2 separate regions of the Homo sapiens genome follow, and region 1 is linked to region 2. The links come from fine-mapping of genetic effects on plasma protein levels. Region 2 holds a variant in brackets. A gene starts in the other region. All regions are shown on their reverse strands.

Region 1 (2,903 bases), not on the chromosome of region 2:
GGCAGGAACTGTGGAGGGCTGCTCACCTGTGCTCCTGGAAACGGCGAGCGAGAGTGAGGAGAGGTCGGGGGACCCTGCAGAGAAGGAGAAACGTCTCAGGAGGTGATGGGGGGCAGCCAGAGGACCAGAGAATATCCCAAGGAAGCCCCACCCCTTCCTCTTCTAGCCCTTCCCCTCTGGATCAGGCCCCTCGCCCTGACTGCCCCCCTGCGTCTGGCCAGGCTTACCAGCTAAATCATGGACAGGTCCTGGCCTTTAGTTTCTGTGGTTCGCCCCACCCTTCATCACACTCAGGGCCCGCTCCTTTTCTCCCTTAAAGTTGGGCCTGGAGGGGACCCCATCTCAATCTCAGTTTAAAAAGTCCCCATCCCGCTGGGCACAAGGGCTCACACCTGTAATCCCAGCACTTTGAGAGGCCGAGGCGTGCGGATCACCTGAGGTCAGAAGTTCGAGGCCAGTCTGACCAGCATGGTGAAACCCCGTCTCTAGTAAAACTACAAAAATTAGCCGGGTGTGGTGGCGGGCACCTGTAATTCCAGCTACTCGGGGGGCTGAGGCAGGAGAACTGCTTGAGCCCGGGAGGCAGAGGTTGCAGTGAGCCTAGATCGTGCCACTGCACTCCAGCCTGGGCGACAGAGCGAGACTCCATCTCAAAAGAAAAAAACAAAAAACAAACAAAAAAAAACATCCTCCTGTCAGGGTCAGACCACTTTTAATTTTTTCAATGTCAAGGCTCCGCTTCTCCGTCTGGAGGCAAGCCCCACCCCCTCCTCATTCTCTGTGTCGGGCCCCGCCCTGCTTTTTTGGGTAACAGGCCCTTCCCCTCCACTCGGCCAGAGTCAGGCCCCGCCCCTTCCCCTTCTTTCGGCCAACTCAGGCCCCGCCCCCTTCCTGCCCTCACGGCCAGGCCCCGCCCCCTCACCCCTCAGCGTAGGGCCCTGCTTCCTTTTTTGAGTCAGGCCCGGCCCTCTTCTCATAGTCCGGGTCGGATCCCGCCCCTCTTCTCCCTCTCTGGGCCCGGCCCCGCCCCGATACCGCCCAAGAGCAGCTTTCGCTCCGCCTTCTCTGAGTCAGGCCACGCCCCCTTCTTTGCCTCAGGGTCAGGCCCCGCCCCCTCTCACTCTACAGCGGGACGCCTCGCTCGAACCTCGGGCCGTACCCCCTCATCACCCTCTGCCTTCTTCCTACGCCCTAATACAGTGTCTCAGGAACCCTCACTCTGCCCCCGCGAAACCCTTAGACTCCCATAGGAACCCCCAGACTACTCCGGGACCGCCAGAATCCCCGCATCTCCAGCCCCGCCCCAGACCCCTCTCCTGAACCCCAGCCCCGCTTACCTAAGGCCCCCAGCTCCGGCGCAGCCGGCGGTCTGGCGACGCGGCGACTCGGCATGGCCCGGCCAGTGGGGACGGACGGCCCAGAGGCTGGCCCAGACCGAAGCATGCACGCGGGCCGGCCGGGCGGCCGGGAGGCACGGTCTGGTGGACGATCGCGGGTCGGACGAGCGGCGCAAGGGCTGGGGCCGCAGGCCGGGCAGGACGCGCGGCGCCCGGGGCTGCGCGGGGCGCGGGGCCGGGCCGGGCGGGCGGCGGGCGGGGGCGGGGCGGCGGAATTCCCCGGCGCCGCCGGCCTGCGCGCCCATTGGTCTGCACCCCGCCGTGACGTCACGCCTGGGGAACGGGAAAACCCCCACGCGTCACGTGATCGCGGGGGCGGGGCCGGCCGGGAAAGGGAGGCTGGGCGCTCAGGAGGGGTTGGGCAGGCGTCGCTGCCCATTGCTCTGGACGAGACAACTGAGGCCTGCTTAGAGCCATCACGCCTTACCCATTGAGCAAGCCGGCAAACTGAGCCGCTCCCCGCTTTGGTCTCCCAGTGGGACTTGAACCTGCCGTTTCTCAGGCTGGAAGGGGAGCTTCAGGATCGAGAGGTTGGCAGGGCTCTACACCTGCCATCCATAATAATATTTCGGAAACCTCCAAGGTCTCGCTACACCTCAGTTTCCTCAACCGTAAATTGAGGATGAAGATATTTAAGGAACGTTTAAAGCTAGCGTGTCAGCTTCAGAATTTATGTTTTGTGCGTTGTTGTAACCCCAACGCCTAGACCAGCGCCTGGAACACCGTAGGTGCCCAATAAATGTTTATTGGAGGCCGGGCGCGGTGGTTCATGCCTGTAATCTCAGCACTTTGGGAGGCCGAGGCAGGCACATCACGAGGTCAGGATTTCGAGACCAGCCTGACCGACATGGTGAAATCCCATCTCTACTAAAAATACAAAAATTAGCTGGGCGTGTTGGTGTGCGCCTGTAATGCCAGCTACTCCGGAGGCTGAGGCAGGAGAATAGCTTGAACCTGGGAGGCGGAGGTTGCAGTGAGCTGAGATCGTGCCACTGCACTCCAGCCTGGGCAACAGAGCGAGACTCCCATCTCAAAAAAAAAAAAGTTTATTGGATGAATGCATGGATGTTTTATTTATTGGTTTGTTCCTCCCTGCAGCCCCTGAAAGTTACCCATAAATAGCCCAGACCACTTTGAGCTCAAAAGCTCAGTTATTCAGTCTGCGAATGGCAGCAGTGTAGCCTCCGTATACATCCTGAGCTGTGTGCCTAAACCCTGAGCTCATCCCTATCACCAGCGCCAGAAGCATATGATAGGATTATTGCAGAAGGGACTCAGGCTGAAAGAGGGGCAGCCATTTGGCTAGATCACATTCCTAAGCCTCTCATATTCCTGAGAACGACTAGGTGATCTATTAGGTTCTAAGTTGGATGCCAGGCGCTCTCAGACCACAGATGCAGGGTTTGTTGTCTTTCCTTTGCTTGTATAAAATTTGGGTGTTCTGGCTAGGCACGGTGGCTCACACCTGTAACCCCAATACTTTGGGAGGCCGAGGCAGGAGGATTG
Region 2 (2,903 bases):
TTTTTAGTAGAGATGGGGTTTCACCATGTTCGTCAGGCTGGTCTCAAACTCCTGACCTCAGGTGATCAGCCCACCTTGGCCTCCCAAAGTACTGGGATTACAGGCGTGAGCCACTGCGCCCAGCCCCACCTTGCTCTTTCTCTTCTACCACACACTACAGAATCTTCTCCCACTCTGCACCCTCAACTGATGACCTTGCTTCCCATTTCACCAAGAAAAGAGAATCACCGGGAAGTGAGCTGTGTCCCGGTGCTGCCGACCCACATCCATGCTCACATCCATGCTCACACCTTCCAGCTTCCCTCCACATCCACGAATGCATTTTCCAGGCTCATCCAGTCCAAAGGTTTTAAATGCCATTTACACGCTGATGACCCAAATATCTACCTCTAGCCTAAAAGTTTTCCTTAACTCCAGACTCTCATAGAGTCTCAACTTGGATATTCAACAGGTATCACAAACTTAACTTATCTAAAACTAAGCACCACATTCTTTCTCTCCACCTCCAGGAAGTTGATTTTCCTAGAATTTCGTCTGCCTCAAAAAATGATAACTCCAGCCCAAAACTCCTGGTATTATCCTTGACTCTTACTTCACACTCACTCCAAATATAACCCATTAATAAATTCTGGTAATTTGTTCTCTAAAAATATCCAGAATATCGCTTCTTGGCCTTTTGGCTAAGATCAAGTGTAAAAAATATCCAGAATATACAAATATTTATACCTCCCCCCGGAACGCTGGCCTATAGCCTGTACCTCTGTAACAGCCTCTAACTGCCCTCCCTGCCTCCCTTCTTCCCCCTCCAAAGTATCTTCAACACTGCAGCCAACACCAGTCTTTCATATTGGAAACTGTTTCCGGGCCAGGCATGGTGGCTCACGCCTGTAATCCCAACACTTTGGGAGGCCGAGGAGGTTGGATCACTTGAGGCCAGGAGTTCGAGACCAGCCTGGCCAACATGGAGAAACCCCGTCTCTACAAAAAATATAAAAATTAGCTGTGGCGGTGCATGCCTGTAGTCCCAGCTACTTGGGAGGCTGAGGTGGGAGAATTGTTGGAACCCAGGAGGCAGAGATTGCAGTGAGCCGAGATCGTGCCACTGCACTCCAGCTTGGGGGACACAGTGAGATCCTGTCTCAAAAAAAAAAAAAAAAAGGAAACTGAAATGAACGTTTCCTACCTCTGTTC[A/G]CTGAAAATTTCTAGATGCAATGATAACCCTGTAGCAATAACCATCCCTACCATCCAGATTTGGCCTCCAAATGTGAATGCCATTTCCCACCAAAAGGAACCAGGGATCCTTAGAGAAATGGCTGATGCCAAGTCTGGGCTAAGGAATGTCTAAAATGGGTCTGGGGTGTCTCATGCTTAAAACAATGGAAGCTGTCAAAGACCATGGGGCACTCTCACAAGGGTACAGGGGCCAACCCAAAGGGATTCCTACTGGCCAAAGATGGGACCATTTTGAACCCCACAAACGTGAATGAGAACTTCCTCTCTTAGAATGACATTCTGAAATACTGATGCAGGAAATCAGACGAGATCTGAGCTACGCTGTCTGGTAACCTGGGAAGAGGGGGTTAAAGAACTGCTGCTGGCAGAGATGACGCCAGACTGGCCAGGGTTCGAGTTCTTAAAAAGCTGGGTGATGACACCGCAGCAGTTCATTACATTATCTTCTCTTCTTTTGTGTTATGTTTGAAAATTCCCAAAGTAAAACGTTTTGAAAATAAGCAAGTGATAAACTGAAATAAAACACTTCGTGCAGAAGTCACTGCTCCCTGTGGTGTGGCCCGTGCTTTCCCGTCTTCTTCCATCCTCGTTCCTTCCTCCACTCAGGCCACAGCAGCTCCGTGTCACTCCTCCCACAGGCCAGGCATGGCCCACCCCAGGGCCTCTGCGCCTGCTGCTCCCTCTGCCTGGAACACACTTTCTCAGACACTTGCCACCCCTCAGATACCGGTGTGGCTCACCCCCTGCCCTCCTTCTGGTCGCTGTTTCCAATTAGACTTCCTAAGAGTTCCTGGATCACCCTGAATACAACGGCAATCTCCCGCTTCCCAGAACTCCCGCTCCTTGCTTTACTGTCTACACACAACTTATCACCAGCCAACACAGGCATTTGAATATGTGTTTATTATTGGTCTCCTCCTCACAGAATTTAAGGTACGTGAGGCAAGAACTGTTTGAATCCCAGCACTGACAAAGTGCCTGGCTCAGAGAAAGCACCCCAAAATATTAATTAACATCAGAAACACATACAGCACTTATTAGGAGGCAGGAACTGTTCTAAGATCTTCATACAACTCACTTGTGAATGACCCACTGGAACAAGACAGCCCCTCCCACCGCTGTGCCCTTTCTCAGGCCGTCCCCCCCAAGCATCCAGAGCCTATGAGCTCAAGTCCCCCAGTTCCATGGAGTACTGGAATATTAGACTATTTCATCATGAGGGTTTTTCTTCTCTCTAAACATCTTGAGCATTTAGTAACTTCAATACTAAAACTGGCAATCACAATGTCATTTCAAAATATTTGTTCTTATTACAAAAGAACATATTATTATATCATCTTATATACATAATATATAACATAACAGAATATATAATTATATATTATGTATATAACATAAAAGGAACACTAATAATATATTGCAGCAAATTTAGAAGATAAAAAATTCAGTAGTAATTCCTACCAGCAATCAACTACTGTTAAAATTTTCATCTGTTTTCTTCTGGTTCACTGTCTCTAGATCTTTTAAATCCTTCTCACAAATATAAATCTCTTGCTTTCTTTAAAGCTATTAAAAATTTCAAAAATTAATTTTAAATGTGACTGAAAAACAAAAAGCTAAACAAAAAAGAGCCCAAAACAATGGTCATTTTAAAGTGTACTTCACATCTA

Direction of the effects. Alleles are on the strand shown, and positions count from the first base shown. The strength of an association depends on the size of the effect and on how common the allele is.
For the plasma level of the protein whose gene starts at base 1,559 in region 1, A is the low allele of the variant in region 2 and G is the other (moderate association).

Evidence for each region. A credible set is the group of variants that fine-mapping cannot tell apart. PIP is the chance, under the fine-mapping model, that this variant and not a neighbour inherited with it causes the effect. Protein levels are from antibody-based Olink assays in UK Biobank. Linkage for the fine-mapping came from a reference panel and not from the study's own genotypes, which makes the PIPs less certain.
Region 1: it holds the start of RELB, and the variant in region 2 is the best candidate, but not a certain one, in a credible set for the plasma level of the RELB protein (UK Biobank, PIP 0.63).

What each region holds. Positions count from the first base shown.
Region 1 is chr19:45,000,120-45,003,022 of GRCh38, reverse strand. It overlaps RELB (RELB proto-oncogene, NF-kB subunit), which reads right to left and starts at 1,559. Exons shown (of 12, transcript NM_006509.4): 1 at 1,338-1,559; 2 at 27-74. The coding sequence starts at 1,443. RefSeq lists silencers at 726-1,005, 1,326-1,735.
Region 2 is chr1:7,794,575-7,797,477 of GRCh38, reverse strand. The region is part of intron 6 of PER3 (period circadian regulator 3); the gene reads right to left. Among named protein-coding and RNA genes, the nearest start is that of PER3, 12 kb to the right of the region's middle. The variant A/G (reference allele first, on the strand shown) is at 1,192.